Regions from separate parts of the Homo sapiens genome. Here region 2 is linked to region 1. The links come from fine-mapping of genetic effects on gene expression. A gene starts in region 1. The other region holds a variant in brackets. All regions are shown on one strand. Distances are from middle to middle.

What was found. PIP is the estimated chance that this variant, and not a neighbour inherited with it, causes the effect.
Region 2: its variant is fine-mapped to the expression of GALNT14 in whole blood (TOPMed, PIP above 0.99).

What each region holds. Positions count from the first base shown.
Region 1 is chr2:31,134,971-31,143,302 of GRCh38, forward strand. GALNT14 (polypeptide N-acetylgalactosaminyltransferase 14) reads right to left here and starts at 3,470. Exons shown (of 15, transcript NM_024572.4): 1 at 2,988-3,470. The coding sequence starts at 3,116.
Region 2 is chr2:31,008,853-31,017,184 of GRCh38, forward strand. All of the region lies in intron 1 of GALNT14 (polypeptide N-acetylgalactosaminyltransferase 14), which reads right to left. Among named protein-coding and RNA genes, the nearest start is that of GALNT14, 130 kb to the right of the region's middle. The variant T/G (reference allele first, on the strand shown) is at 3,863.

The sequences.
Region 1 (8,332 bases):
AACTAATATATGTAAATGGAGTCTGTGAATTTGTAAAGCCCTATAGAAATGCTGGTGGCTGTTATTTAACATGCATGCATAGGCTTACATGGGTTAGGTCCATAAGCACACTCAAGAAGAAAATCATTTGACCATATTTACATGCAGCCAACCAAACCACGATCAACAGACTTGGTATTCTTCATCTAGCTCCCAAATGCCACCCATCAATAGGCTGCTTCAGAATCACATGCAACCCTGGTAAAAACAGTAATTCTAGAACCTTCTCCCAAACTCACAGAGGCATAATCTCTGTAGTAAGCCCAAAAATCTGCATGTTAATGGAGCTCACCAGGTGATTCTGACATGCAGCCAGGTTTCGGTACCACTGTGCTCCTTTGGACATGTCATATAAATTTGGACTTGTCATACAAAGTCACAGGGAATAAAACTGTTCTGGCGTTACCTAAGGAGTCTCTGTCTTTCTTCCTCTCTTCTCAGGTACATACACACTAAGATACAGAGCGACATACATACAAGGGAAAAACAGGAAGAAGAAAAATACTAACAAAAAAAAAAGAAGACACCTAATAGTAAGAGGTGTCAAGATTTTCTAAGTCTATAAAAATTCATGGTTCTAGAAGGATACAGAAAATGAGGAAAAGAAGGAACAAGATGTTAAGACAAAGAGCAACTGGTTCAAAACTAGAAAACCTCCTCTTTTGTGACTGCACAGTACAATGTCCTGACTTCTGCTACTAAACCACTCCCCACCTTAAAGTACCACTCATTTGTTGGTAATTCTGCCTCATCCTGCAACTTATGTGGCCCCCCACCCCCATGCCAAAGGACAGGGACACAGCGTGCTCATCATAGCAGCCCCCAAACCCAGCACAGAGCCTGGCATACAGCTGCCTGTGATAGATGTGTGCTGAGCACACGCCAGGATAAGAAGAGGCAGGAGAGGAGGAGGGACAAAGAGTGCACAAAGAAAGAAACAGGTCTCTTGTCCCAGATCCCTGGTGTAAACTAAGAATAAGCAAGCTTAAGGTAATGAGGGTCGAAGCAAAACAGAGAAAGTTCATGTCCCTGCAGGTATCATTAACTACATCACAGGGAGCAGAACCACCTAGGGAAAAAGAAGAAAAGCTCTCCAGATCTATGGGCAGGGGCTGAGTGAGAAAAGTGATCTGGTGCTATTAAAGGTGGTTTGAAGTCATCAATCTGGCCTCGCCACCTCACTGCCTGACCCTCTCCAAGAGTCCTCACACCCACAAGATTCTACCCCACCCAGCCCCTACACACCTCCCTAAACTTTATCCCTCCAACCTCCACATACTTTGTGCTCAAATTATGCCAAACTCACACAACGTGCTGTGTCATTCCTCTGAGCCTGTTTCATGCAGTTAACCTCTACCTGGAATGCCCTTTCTACCTACTGACAAACCTGTTTATCCTTCTCAGCTCAGCTCTGTTATGTCCTCCTCCTCCAGGGAGACCTCAGGCTCCCATGACACCCAGTGCACTGAACCCTCTTAGCCCTATGCACACCTCACATCCTGGTCCAATGATGAGTGAACTCCTCTCCCCCCAGAGAGTAAATTCTATCTCTCTCTACCCATAGCACCTAACACACTGCCTGAGCACACAATAGGTGCTAAATAAATGCTTGTTGAAATCGACAAAGCATTGGCAAGATTCCAGAACATAAGTGCTAGAAGACTTGGTTAAAAAGGGGAAACCGAGAGGCAACTTGATATACTGGAAACCCTGAGCGTGGAGGCTGGAGTTCAAACCAGTAGAACGACTTAAGGTACGTGACTTAAAGACCCTGAACCTGTTTTCCTGATCTATGAAACAAGCATATTACCACCCAACTCCTACAACTACTTATGAGGAAGGCACCTACTATGCACCTGGCACACAGTAGGCCCTCTGTACTGTACTTAACTGGTGAGACGCCACCTCCCGCCCACATCTTCCTGTTTTTCAGTCTCCCATTTCCGACCATAAGCTCCTCCAAGGCTTTTGCCCAGACCCCTAGACGACTGTTCTGGACCCAGTTTATAAAGACTGCCTGGCTGGCCAGGAAATCCCCCAGAGGCCTCCTTCCGTGTCCCCGGGCCAAATCTGTGAAGAGAAAACGGAAGGCTACCATGTCACGAAAAACTATGATCAAATAAATTATTATGCCTTTTCTCCTATTGATCTGCCTTTTGTCAACTGATTTTCAGTGAACCTTCGGAGAGCCATGGGGAAGTTTTCCCTTTCCCCCTACAGGGCTCTGAATCTGAAGGTAAGAGTGAGCCTATAGGGGGAACCTTCTGGCTCCCTCACAGGAACTGACTGAGCAGGAGTTGGAAAAGCCACTTGGATTCCCATTTCCTCAACTCCCCGCCAATACCAAGGCGTCTGTTTTTACAGGCTCTTTCGTGGTGTTCTGGGCACATTCAACTTCCAATGCAGCTGAGAGGGTCGGGAACAGTTAGAGAACAGGGGTGGCAGCCGCCCGGGAGGCTGCAAGGCGCTCGCCCGCAACGCACAGGCGCGCGCGGCGCACCCGGCCTCCGGCCTCCCCAGGTCGGGCCTGGCAGCTGCGGGAAGGAGGTCAGCGCAGCCGCCACACTTCGCCCGGGCGCTGGCCCGACCCGACCGCCGGCGACTCTCTGGCAGCGCCCGGAGACCGCCAGCCCCTGGGCCGCCCGTCCGCAGAGCCCCCTCCGCCCCGGGACCCTCGCGCGCAGCTCAAGTTGGGAGCCCCGCTCCGCAGGCGAGCGCGCGCCCACCACCCACACCCACTGCCACTCATGCACACCGCGGGTCCGGAGATGCCCCCGAGCGTTTTAAAATCCAGAAACATCACATGGTAGCCACATCCGGCGGCTGTTACCTGCTCGCAGCACCCAGACCCTCGCCCTGGTTTCCCGGGAGCCCGCAAACCCGGCACGCGGGCTGCGCGCCCTCCCGCAAGCCACCGCTCAGCGCCAGCGCGCCGGCAAGCCGCCTACCTTAGGGGTCTGCACTTCAGGTCCCGTCGGCACCTCCAACTTCCTCTTGGTTACCCAGAAGAACAGCAGCACCGTGATCCAGAGCACCCCGAAGACTGGCAGAACCAGCCGACGAGTCAGGCGCCGCATGGTCCCCTTTGCCGCTTCCTCTCCGCGGCGCTACGTCCCGGGGGCACCCCCCGGCGGTCAGGGTTGGCGGGGCAGGAGTCCTGGCGAGCGCCTCGCTCTGGGGAGCTCTAGACCCAGGATCCGGTTGGAGGGGCGGCAGGATCCTGCAAGGCGCCCTTCCCGCTTCGAAGAGAAGCGAGCCTGGGTGGGGGGTGCAGGGCGACCCGAAACGTGGCAGGGAAGGACCGAGGGCAGCCAAGCTGGACGCCCGCTCCAGCGGGAGAAGCGCGGTGGCTGCCGAGATGTTCCCCACGCCGCCACCGCGGCTGCCGCCGCCGCCGCCGCCGCCTTGCCCGCTGCCGCCGATAGGGAAACTGACTCGAGCAGCGAGAGGGAGGAATCCGAGGCTGTGCCAAGCACCCCGGGAGGAGCACGAGGGCGGAGGGAGTGAGCGGGGAGGGCGGGCCCGACAGACAGGCCGACTCGGAGCGAGCCCAGGTGGGAGTGAGCGGGGCTCTGAGAGGGGGCGCTACCGCCGCCCGCCGACCGAAACGCTCGGTGCTGTTGCGGGGCCGCCAGCGCCAAGCCCTGGGCGCAGCTCCCAGACCATCGTGGGTTGGGGCAAGGCGGGGCGGGGCGGGAGCGGTGCACTCGGGATGCCCGCCACCCCCAGCTGCCAGCTGGGACCCAAGGGCCGGCCCTCGCCAGGCGGCGCTGTGCCTGGGAGGACTTTCCCGCTCATCGCGGGGGCTGCACGTGGCGCTGAAGCCGGGGTCCCACCCCCAATGTGCTCGTCCTACCACAGCCAAGGCTGGGATTCCAGGGCGCCGGCAGGGCTGCTGCCCCAAACCCGCGGTTCACTTGCCTGGCTACTGAGGGCCAAGGCCGCGGTCAGCCAACTCCCCAGGGTGTTTCTATGCCTGCCTGCAGGTGCCTGGTAACTTTTTCTGCTTAACGGAAGGAAAGCTGAGCTGGTCTAATTTTAACTTTAAAGATATCCTTTAAAAAATTAAGGCGCAATTATCTCCCATAAAGGTTTTCTCTCCCTGTAAGCATCAGGGCTTTGTGCTTGCAAGAAAAGAGGTCCAAAGTTGGAACAACCACTTGGGATTCTTGGAAAGTGACCCTGGGCAGGAGGATACTGGGTGCAGAGGGTGATCTTTCAAAAGCCCCTTTTCCCAAGGGCCTTTGGGAATTGTATCCCCCTCCCACTTGCAGATTAAAACCGCTTGGATCTAGAAGCAAAGCAAATTCTAACTCCAATTCCCATGTAGGCTCAAGTAGGCTGGAATCACGGCCAGATCACTGACCAGAGAGTACTGACCTAGCTGTCACACTCACTGTGTGAGTCTTGGGTAAGTCATTTACCTTCTCCCAGTCTTCGATTCCTCATCTGTAAAATGGAGGGAAAATACCTCCTCTGACAAGCAAATGAGTAGTGGTGAAAGCTGAATGCAAGGTGCTGGTGTTATCTGACCACTCAAAGTGGGGAAACCTTGCTCTGTCTGGGGAGCAGAGGCAGCGGGAACCATGCCATTTTTGTTGGAGGGTTGCTTGCTTCATCGAGTTTCTTGGGGAGGTGAGAACGATGCACCCACTGTGGCAGCCACCATTCTCCCTGCCCCTCTCTCCCCATAAAGCTCAGTGTAGGGCAAGCTCCCATACCTCCGCACAGGTGAGACAGCTGTAAATCAGGGCTCTGGAATTCCTTCTTCAATAAGATGTCTCCCCAAAGACATGTACTGAGAAATGGAGGCGTCTACTCAAAGCCTCCTGTTTTTGGTACCTTATCTTTCAGCCACAGGGAAGTCCTGCCTCAACCTCAGAGAGTTCTTGACTGGACTGTAGATAAGATGTTTGGGGTTGGGAACCGCAGTTGAAATTAAACAGCCCAGAAAAGGTGAGCACTGTTGCCAGCCCTTTCAAGATCTACCTGCGCTCTTAGACCATCACACAGAACCCCAGGGTTGATCTAGCATTTGCCTTTATCAGAACTCTGAACACTGAAAGGTGGGAGTAGGCTCCCCAGCCAATGCTTTGTCCCAGCAAAGGCCCAGGTAGATGATCATCATGGGAGGGGTAGGGGGAGCAGCAAGAGAACTCACCTCTGCAGCATCCCAAGCACCTTGGACCTCTTTCAGGAGCCTCACCCGGGACCTGCAGTTTCGGGCCTGCAAAGCGTTCTGCTGCAGGCTCTGCAGGGGACCCCCAGGCAAGCTGCTGAGCTGCTGTTGGCTCCAGGCAGAAGCTGCAGCACAGGAGTCCATTGCTCAGCGCTTTGTAATGCCGCTTCTGAGTAACAGATGGCAGACAGTTACACAAGAACACCGCCAAGCTTTTGAGATGGTGCAGCACCACCACGCTGCTCACCACACTGCTGAGATGCTGAGGTGCCTCATTCTGACTGTTTGGCATATGGGGAAACTGAGGCCCTGGGGTGAAGGCAGCTCCGTGCAGGGACTGCAATGTCTCAGAGAGTGGGAATTTCCTTCCAGGAATGATTTTCTTCTCAAATCATTATTTTGTCCTCTACTCAAGTGAGGAAGATTTCCTGGGCCTATGGAAGCTGTCAAGGGAATCCAGTTTTGCTAGGTGTCATTAGCTGATCCATCCAGAGATCATATCAGATATCAGTTTGGGTTGTCAAACCAGTAAATATCATTAGGACTGAAGTAGATTTCAAGTGGGACTTCAAACATCTGGAAGTGAAGTGAGTGTCCATGCGGGGCCTAGTTCTGTAGGTCTCTCCAGGAACCCAGTCTATCCAGGGGTCCCCCATGCTCAGGAATATATTTGAAACGCTTTAATAACCAGCTTTAAGCCTGGGCAACATAGCGAGAGCTTGTCTCTAAACAACAACAACAACAACAAAATAGCCAGGCGAAGTGGCAGGTGTCTCTAGTCCCAGCCAATTGGGAGGCTAAGACAGGAGGATTACTTGAGCCCAGGATTTTGAGGCTGCAGCGAGCTATGATCTCACCACTGCACTCCAGCCTGGGTGATGGAGCGAGACCCTGTCTCAAAAAATGAATAAATAAAATAACAAGCTTAAGTAATGCAGAGTATGGTTGATCCCAGCGGGGGATTAGCTATCATTGGCGATTAATCCAAGTTACTTTTTTCTTATCACAGCCAATATGGGGAGGAAAAGCTCCTAGCAAAAGACTTAACATGGCAGGAAATGAAAAAAAATAAATACACTCTGAACTAGGACTCTCCTGGTTCTCCTGGATCTCCTAAAACAGATCTACCTCCTCAGTCTTGATATTGTTGAGCCAAGCTCCTCATTCCTCTGGGTCTGTGGTTTCCCATCGGCAATGTCATGTTCTCTCAAAGACCCTCCCAGCTGACGCATTTAGGGTTCTGACCTTTCTTGTCCTGGATCAGGACCTTCTTTACCACTCCTGTTGTTGGCGAGTTCTGTGTAAGCTGTTCTCTCCTCACAGCCGAAGACATTAGAGAGCAAATTGGGTACTGGAGCAGATGTGAGTCATTCATGTTAGTATAAAAACTATGGAATGAAACCCATTATGGCCCGGAAAGCAGTGTAAAGCAGCATATGGAGCAAATGCAAGCTGGAAGCAGGAGGAAGCTGTGAAGTCCGATGCATATGCTCTGTGGCGGCTTTTGCTGTGGATTCTCACACTTCGCTTCTCGTTTCCTGTAGCCGTCTCCCCATCATTCTCGCTCAGCCCACTGCAGAGGCTGCAGCCTTTGTTCCTTTTGGATCAGATTCTCTGAGTCCCTCCTCTCTGCCCACTGCATGACTTCAGGGAGGCTGTGTGTGCGCGAGTGGCTGTGTGTGTGCTTCTTGCCATCTGCACGCTTATTAGACCTGTCACAATCAGCGAGACACCCTCTGTGCCAACCTAACGAAATTTCACCCACAGAGGCCCAGACAGGTTTCTGTTGAGGTCTTTACCTCTTCTGGGCCATAGGGAAAGGTAAGCAGTAGCAGGGCAGATTGCAGCACAGTGAGAAGATGAGTCGCACACATGCTGGCCCAGCAGCAAAAAGAGCGGCAGTGAAAATTCAAAGATCTGTCTGTCTTTATTCCACAGTCATACAGATACAAGTCTTTGGGCTGACTCCTGCAGTTGACTCTGTTCAAGTTCTCCACTGTAAATAATACATCAGCTCCCCTTTCCTCTGTGTTCCTCTCCATTTTCCTTGCCACTATAGATCCTGTCAAAACCGCATGTCCTGGGTTTCCTGCAAGGCTTTCTTATAGAGTGAGTGATGGAATAGTTTAAACCACGTGGTGAATGAGGATGAGCTATTACCAACCCCTTACCTCATCTTTCTGCCACATCAGTGAATCTTTGTCAAAAGAATAAAGCCAGCTGGATTTTCCTCTCATCTTTGACGGGTAGATGGGTGGCTTTATCTAAGGGATCTGACAGTCACCTTTCTGGATCTTTCTCTTTCCATTAAACAACTCCTTTCACCAGCCCACTACCCTCAACTCCTCTCCCTCCTTTTATTCTTATATTCGATTCCTTGAAAGGGATCTATATCTTTGCATTTCAAAAGCCTGCTTCTTTTATTGTTTGAAATGCCCCAAACTTTCTTTGTTTCTCACCCAAATGCCAAGTGTAAAACTTAATACTGCTACAATGATATGTCTTTGCTGGTTGTGTAAAGTGGTTTGATCTTCAGTGATGGTGCCCTGTGGTGATCTGAGAAATTTCCCCCACCCCCCCCCCAGCCCCTATAGAATATGCAAAGTTCTAGCATGAAGGTGTGACCCAGTTTGCCTAAAGAAAAGTAAAAGAGACCTGCACAGTGGCTCACGCCTGTAATCCCAGCACTTTGGGAGGCCGAGGCGGGCAGATCACTTGAGGTCAGGAGTTTGAGACCAGCCTGACCAACATGGCGAAACCCCGTCTCTTTTAAAAAATACCAAAATTAGCCGGGCATGGTGGCAGGCACCTGTAATCCAGCTACTCGGGAGGCTGTGGCAGGAGGATGGCTTGAATCCGGGAAGCGGAGGTTGCAGTGAGCTGAAATCACGCCATTGCACTCCAGCCTGTGCAACAAGAGCAAAACTCCATCATCAAAAAAAAAAAAAAATAGAAAAGAAAGAAAAAGAAAATTATTTCCCTTGAATTATCTAGAGGAGACTCTGACAGAGGGCAGCACAGGCAGAAGAAATAGAAGGATCTAAGGACAGATGTCACTCCCCAGGTCCCCAATTTCAGACAACCAAATCTGAGAGCCACTTGCATTATCTCTGA
Region 2 (8,332 bases), 130 kb before region 1:
TCCTGCTGGGGGAGGCGGCTCCCTGCACGGGTGGCCGGGGACCATGTGGCACTGCTCAGGCCAGGATGCCAGACAAGCATGAGAAATGGCTCCCTGGAGGGCCCTCTGCTAGACAAGGGCCATAGGTTCCCAGGAAACTTGCATCTGGCTTAGCCCTTGAACAAAATCAATGCCCCGGGCTGCAGGAGGGGAGATAATGACAGCAGAACTTGCAATTCACTTCATTCATTCACTTCATGCATTCATTTATTTATTCATTATTTCTTGAGTTCTTACTGTAAACTGAGGGAAAAGGCCAATAGATATGCAGAAAGAATGAAAGAAGAACAAATGGAGGAGGCAGAGGGCAAGGAAGAGGATCTCACATTTATTGGGCACCTACTGGATGCTCAGCACTAAGGCACAATTTGGCACATTCATCTTCCTTGGCCCTTCAGCAACATCCTACCCCCTGGAAAAGCCCCCCTTCGAGGGTCCTTGTCTCTCTGTTTCAGAATACTTTCTCCTGGGCTTCTCAGACTTTGGCATCTTCTTCATTTCCTTCTCTGGCTCCTCCCTTCCCCTGATTTCTCATTGTTGGAAGTGTGCATGGATTTAGCCCTGGTCCCTCCTCTCCACTCGTTACACTCTCCCTACAGGTGACTTCCTCCATTCCTGTGCCTTGACAACCTTCTATAGATGGAGGATTCCAATATAGTTTTCCAGCCCAGATCTCTTTTCTGAGCTCCAGAACAATATCAAAAAAACGCCTACTGGACATGCCCACTTAAGGTCTCACAAGCATCTCACCTTGCATGGATTTCAAATGGAACTCTTGATTTGCCCATTGGAACTGGTGCCTCTTCCAGGCTTTCACAAGTAAAGAAATGGCACCACCAGCCACATAGCTGCACAAGTCAGGAATCTGAGAGTTACCCTCGACAATTCCTTCTTCCTCATTCTAAATCTCACTCTAATCACTTGAACCCACACACAACTAACCCATCCCCATGTCCTGTTGGTTCTGCCTGCAAAGCATGCCTCCATCCAGCCACCCTCCTTTTCCCATCTCTACAACCATACCCAACCACCACCAACTGCATTCTGGAATACTGCATTTGATCCCTCCAATTCATTTTCCAAAGTCACCTTGTTTTGTTTTGTTTCGTTTTTAGACATAGTCTTGCTCTGTCACCCATGCTGCAGTGCAATGGCATGATCTTGGCTCATTGCAACCTCCGCCTCCTGAGTTCAAGCGGTTCTCATGCCTCAGTCTCCTGAGTAGTTGGGATTACAGGAGCCCACCACCACATCTGCCTAATTTTTGTATCTTTTTAGTAGAGACGGGGTTTCACCATGTTGGTCAGCCTGGTCTCAAACTCCTGACTTCAGGTGATCCACCTGCCTCAGCCTCCCAAAGTGCTGGGATTACAGGCGTGAACCACTGCGCCTGGCCCAAAGTCGCCTTCTTAAAAACGACATCTGTGGCTGGGCGTGGTAGCTCATGCCTGTAATCCCAACACTTTGGGAGGCCAAGGCGGGCAGATCACGAGGTCAGGAGATCCAGACCATCCTGGCTAACACGGTAAAACCCCATCTCTACTAAAAATACAAAAAATAAATAAATAAATAAATTAGCCGGGCGGGGTGGTGAGCACCTGTAGTCCCAGCTACTTGGGAGGCTGAGGCAGGAGAATGGCGTGAACCCGGGAGGTGGAGCTTGCAGTGAGCCGGGATTGCGCCACTGCACTCCAGCCTGGGCAACAGAGAGAGACTCTGTCTCAAGATGACATTCGTTCCCGTCTCTCCCATTCTGGCTCAGAATCCCTCCAGCGGCTCCCACTGCACTCAGAATGCTGTCCTCACTCTTTCCTGTGGCCCCCAAGGCCCTGCCTGATCAGAACCTGCAAACTCTCCACACTTACCCCTCCCCATCCCTCTTAGCTCATTATGTTCCAGCCACACTGGCCGTTCTTCCCTTTCTCATCCATCTCATCCCATCTCATAGGGCTTTCTGCCTGGAATACTCTCAATCTGATCAACTGTGGCCAGCAAGGAAGTGGCAAGATGGGAAACCAGAACCATTTTGCCTACAAAAAACTTTCAATGGGCCTGGCTTTTCAGAAAAGAGAAGACCAGCAAGGGCTGGTGCCATCAGGGAGAGGTTCAGCAGGGAGGCAAGCCTTGGCCTAGGCCTACAGGAATTAACTAGACTGAGACAGAAGCACAGGAAGGAGGGAGGGAAGGGATAGGGAGGGTGGACACCCACGAGAGCTGGGTCTGCAATCTCTCCTCCAGTTACTGTCTCTGTGACCTTGGGAAGTGACTTAACCTCTCTCCCTCAACTGAGAGTTAGCTGTCTGGCTGTCTATTCTGCAAAACTGTGATGCCATTTTACGGATCTAATGGACTAAAATAAGTAAAGCACTAAGCTCTGTGCCAGGCATACTTTTAGCACTCAAAAAAGAATAGCTACCACTTTGGTAGCAAAGTGAAGACAACGTTGTATGTCCATGGGGCAGTAAGAGCTGACTTTTAGATCTGGCCTCCACAACCTTGAATCCTCGGGTAAACCATTTCTGCTCACTGGGTCTCTGGTTACTTTTCCCACCTATAAAATATAGGGGTTACATAGCAGAGGCATCCTTAACTATTTGAGGAGACAGGGCCCTATTTTTCAGTGTAATAGAAGCCATGGTCTTTTCTTCCCCAGAAATAGATGCAAAATTCTGCTCACAGGATCTAGGATCCAGTGCCACCCTGGGGCCACAGGAGGCACCTGGCTGTTAAGAGGAGAGGGCGCCTCTCTGAAAGATGAGCTCACACTGGCAGACCTGTCTGGCAGCAAATAAATCTATGATACTCTCCCTTCTCCCTCCCAGCTACCCCTCAGGGGGCCAAAGCTGGCTCCTCAGCTCTGCCAGCCTCTGCCCACCCCATGCCGAGCACAGTCAGGAGGCATGCTGTGCAGAGGGACTCCATAATTGGTCCCTGCTCTGTTTGTACTTCAAACAACAACCTTGAGATGTGTTCTCTGGACGTGCCGCCTGGCTCTGGCTGCCATAACGCTCAGCCGGGAAACACATCTCCAGAGATCCACAGCACTGGGGAAAAGCTAGGCATTCTTCAGCTGATGCCCAGGAGCTGAAGGTGTTTGAAACGGGCAGGGGCAAAGAAGGGTGGGGAACGCCAGTCTGCTCAGGAAATTCTCTACTCCTTGGTGACAGTTTCCAGTACAGAAGATATCTCCTCATTCTCTTTGCAGAGCCGACCAACAGATAAGCGCTGGGGATTTATGTCTTTAGACCTGTATTTAATTTTTCACACTGCTGCTGGAATGGCTCTTCTAAGACACGGTTGGATCCCACTCACAGAATAAAGGCCAAGTTCTTTGCCGTGGTCTGCAAGTACTGCCCTGGACTTTTGGTCTGGCTTAACCCTGGTTCCCACACACTGGCATCCTTCCATTAAACTGCCACCACCATGACTTTAAGGAAGCAAGCAAATCTGGTCCCTGCAACCTAATAGTGTCCCCTCTTCTTATGGCAGCACCTATAGTTACCTGTTTATTGGGTCTCTTCCACAAAACAGCGTGTGTCCTGGAGGCAGGAGTGTGGCTTTTCTCTCTGAGAGGTTGGTAATAAAAACTGCTCACAGCCTCAGTGCAGCTCTCCCTTCCCACCTCACTCCACCAAGGCCCTCAGGCTACAGACAAGGGGACAGACACAGAACTCACAGCCCTCAAACTATGCCTTGTGGAGGAAATGAACAGGCTCAGACATGGTGAAAAAAGGGTTAAGAATGAACTTGCCCTGAATCAGGGTGTGTAGGTCAAGCAAGATGCAAAGGAACTGCATGGCAATGATGCAAACATGCCCCTGTG[T/G]GGGTGGGGCCAAAACCAAAACCAAACAAACCAACAAAATGGAACACAGTATGAAAAAAAATCCAAAAACAACACCACCCACACACACAAAACAAAAACCCCAGTCTAAATAAAAACAACTAAACAAATGGAAGGAAATTACCCAAACGTGCTTCATGCTATGGAATAGCTTAAAAGCATGAATTTAATAAAATAAGAGCTAAAGGATTAGATGATTAAATAAAGCAATGGAATAAAGAATGATAAAACTGAGAACCACAAAACACTTTTGCAGAACCAATAAATACATGTTGAAACTCCAAGAAGCAGTGCAGGCACAGCAGGAAATCTAATTACTGATACCAACTAAAGGGTTCCAGTCCTGGCTCTGACACTCTTGAGCAGTGGGACCTTGGGCAAGTCACTGGGACTCAGAGGAGAAAGATTTAAATTATTAAAGCAACTACAGGAGAGAATAAAATGTATAGAAAGAGCAAAGGTGATCCAACATCAGAAAACTGGTGAACCTGAAGCAGAGAAACAGATGGAACACACAAAACAGTCTTCATCTTTTTAAATAAAAACCTCCTGAGATGAATAAAGATCTGAGTCTGCACATCAAAATTGCACACCACATTCCATAAAAAATTGATACAAAGGGATTGACACGAAGATGTTTCCTGGTTTAGGTATCGAACTTCCAAATGCAAGAAAGAAATCATCAAGCACCCAGGCAGAACCAACAAGTCACCTACAGAAGGGGAAATGTTCAGCTGACCTCAAACTTCCCCGCGGCAGCTTTCCATGTCAGCGGATAATGAAGCAACACCCACGGGGCTGAGTCCAAATGTGACCAGAAGCATTTTAACCTGCTGAGGTGCCGTTCAAGTACGGACAGCAGGAGTGTGATATTCCCACATCCAAGCTCAGGGATGACAGCACCTATGAGCCCATTTTGAAGCAGCCACTAGAATCCACTATGGCAGACTTCTAATTTGGACCCCAGTCTGTCTGGCCCATGCTCTTTCTGTTAATGCCATTTCTGCTTTATATATGAATTTTGTTCCCACATGCAGTCAATGAAGAGGTGGTTCAAAATAAAAAACCCAAGAATGGAGCAGAAGAACCAGTAGAGCACTGAATCTATGTAATTACAAAACTAAAAGTAAACAGCTATGGGAATGGTCATGAAACACTACAAAAGTGTTATAGACTCTGACAATCTAAAAATAACGATTGTGCAGACAATGGCTTTAAGTTTCTGTCCCTGTAAGATTTCATGAAAGCTGCACTTAAGGAATGAAAACAGATGAACCTAAATTTTCTCAAGACCTATGCTCTGACACTGGCTCCACTGCTTACTGTTTATGTGATTTGGAGGAAGCTGCTTAACCTGTTTGAACCTCAGTTCCATCACCTGTAAAATGGGGAGAATAATGCCTATTTCACAGGGTTTTAAGAATTAAATGAAAATACTGTAGGTAAAAAGCAGTGGCTTGCACATAGTAAATGTCAATTAAGAGGAGAAGCTGACTAAAGATGAGAATAAAAGTGAACATCTCCCTTCCCCCTTCCTCCCCAAAAAAGGCAAGGGGGTACCCATCAGCTCTGGATCTGGATAGCTAGTGAGGCTCTGGGCTCTCCAGTAGGTTGCTGTATCAATTCACAATGTTGCAACTCATTGCAGGGAGAAGCCCCTCCCACAGAGAGGCATTGGGCCCCCAGTTTCCAACCACACAGAGAGCAAACTCTTTTCCCCAGGACTGAGGCAGAGAAACTGAAGACTGAAGGAAAAGCAAGCCTTCACCTCCTGGCAGGGGCATGGTGAGAAGCAGTGTGGATCCAGCTGCTTGCCAGTGGATGCCCCCTTCTGAAGGCCTGAACAGGTCCCCATATGACTAGCCCTGAGGAACGCAGCATGCTGGGACACACGATACATGTAGGTCAGCAAGTCAGATTCTAGACCCAATCTATCTGCCACCCACTAGCAGTGTGACCTTGAGCAAGTCACTTGAACTCTCCCTATTTCCTCATCGTAGAATAAGAGGGTAGGAGTCAATGATCCCTAAAGCACCCCTGCGTTTACCATGTATATAGAGTGCAAAGTTCTGTGTGGGTTGTACCCTTACACCAGTCTTTCCTGCCATAATTAATTCAACAAGAACCCCAGAGAAAGGAAGAGGAAGGAGAAGGAAACATGAGACAGAAGTGTAAATTAGCAGGTGAGGGAATGCATAAAGGAGGGAGGGAAGGGCTAAAGTTCTGTGGCCTCTGAAGAATCAACCACTCGCTAGCTTTAAAGAGGCAGGAGCTTGGCCGGGCACCGTGGCTCATGCCTGTAATCCCAGCACTTTGGGAGGCTGAGGTGGGTGGATCACCTGAGGTCAGGAGTTTGAGACCAGCCTGACCAACTTGGTGAAACCTCATCTCTACTAAAAATACAAAAACGTTAGCTGGGCATAGTGGTGCACTCCTGTAATCCCAGCTACTTGGGAGGCTGAGGCAGGAGAATCGCTTGAACCTGGGAGGCTGAGGTTGCAGTGAGCCAAGAGCGTACCATTGCACTCCAGCCTGGGTGACAAGAGCTAACATCCATCTCAAAGGAAAAAAAAAAAAAAAAAAAGAGATGGGAACTCACTCTCTGCCAGTGAGAGTTGAGAGTTAGTGACTACAGCCTCTGCAGGGCACCCCAAATCCACTCCTGACAGGAGAATTGCAGAAAGAAGGCAACTCTGCCTTATAAAAAGGGTCCGGAAAATCTGCCTCCATCTATACTAAAATCGATGGGCTAACAGTTGAGATGAATCAGAATGTCTGCAAAGTCTCAAAGTACATCCTCCAATGTACTAATGGCAAAAGGGAAAAAAAGAGTAATTTTATGATGGAGACTGCTGGCCAGTACCACCCTAGCCAAGCAATCAAGATTAACATTACCAGTAATAAAACATATCAATATCACATATCCCCTATAAGGATGTACTGACAAGGGCTCAACACCACGTCTGTAGTATTTTTGCCAAAAACACGTAGCTTCAGTCTAATCTGGAGAAAACATCAGACAAACCCAATGGAGAGACATTCTACAAAACAACTGACTAGAACTCTTCAGCGTGTCAAGGTCACGTAAGACAAGGAAAGACATCACAGATTGGAAGAGACTATTACAATTAAATGCAAGGTGGATCCTGGCTTGGTAACCAGAGCCACTGGGATCATCCCACCAGACAAGCTGCCTAAACGAGACCTTGAAGCAGGCTGAGGGGGCATGAAATCTAGAATGGGTAGAGGAGGAAGGAGATGATGAGAGTCACAAACAATTGCAGCAGCAGGGCCTAGAGTTTGCTCTACTAGCCCTTCTGCATGGATCCGCTCGGGCTACCATCACAAAACACCATAGACCACGGGGCTTAAACAACAGAAGTTTATTTTCTCACAGCTCTGGACGCTGGCAGTCCAAGATCAACGTGCGAACAGGGTTAGTTTCTCCTGAGGCCTCTCCACTTGGCCCGCAGATGGCCGTCTTCTGGCTGAGTCCTCATGTGGTTTTTTCTCTGTGTGTACATCCCCAATGTCTCTTTCTGGATTTCTAATCTTCCCTTCTTGTAAGGACACCAATCAGATTGTATTATGCCAACCTTGATTACCTCCTTATAGGCCATCTCTCCAAATACAGTCACATGGGGGTTAGAGCTCCAACGTATGAATGGTAGAGGGTAGAGAAGGGACACAATTCAGGCGATTACACCTTTCCTTACAGAGCTTCCTAGAAACTGGGACTAAACAGAATCCCAGAGAAGCTGTACCAGGATAGAGGGATGAACCACAGTGGGTGCCACTGTGCCCCACACGAACTCCTTCCACTGGGCCTGCACACCCATCTCTCAGCTGCTAGGAGTGCTGGCTGCAAACTTCTACAGAGACCTGCCCCCCAGAACAAGACCTGCCTCTCCTGGGAGGTATATCCCCAACTCCAGGGAGCAACTGGTGCCAGTGGCTGAGCAATCTCTTCTCCAAGGCTCCCCTTGGAACCAGGTTGAAATCTCCTACTATGAGATACATCCTTGCAGAGCATCTTCCCCCGCCTGCCCTGTCTTGCTTCCCTCACTCCCCTCCTCCTGGGAGTGCTCTCATTAAATTTACAAGGCTCTGCTTCTATGGAATCTGACTCAAGACACAAAGCACTACCTACAAAGCTTAGGATAGTGCCTGGCACACAAAAGGGATCACGAGGTGTTAGCTATCATCCTCACAACATACCACGCTCTGTGCTGGACGAACCGTACACATTATTCACTGAATCCTCAAAAACCCTGCAAGGCAAATAATGTGATGATCACTTTATGGTTAAGCAAGGGTCTCAAAGCTAGCTATGGCAGACTTCTAATTTGGACCCCAGTCTGTCTGGCCCATGCTCTTTCTGTTAATGCCATTTCTGCTTTATATATGAATTTTGTTCCCACATTTTCAGAAAGGTTCCTAAGACTCTAATCT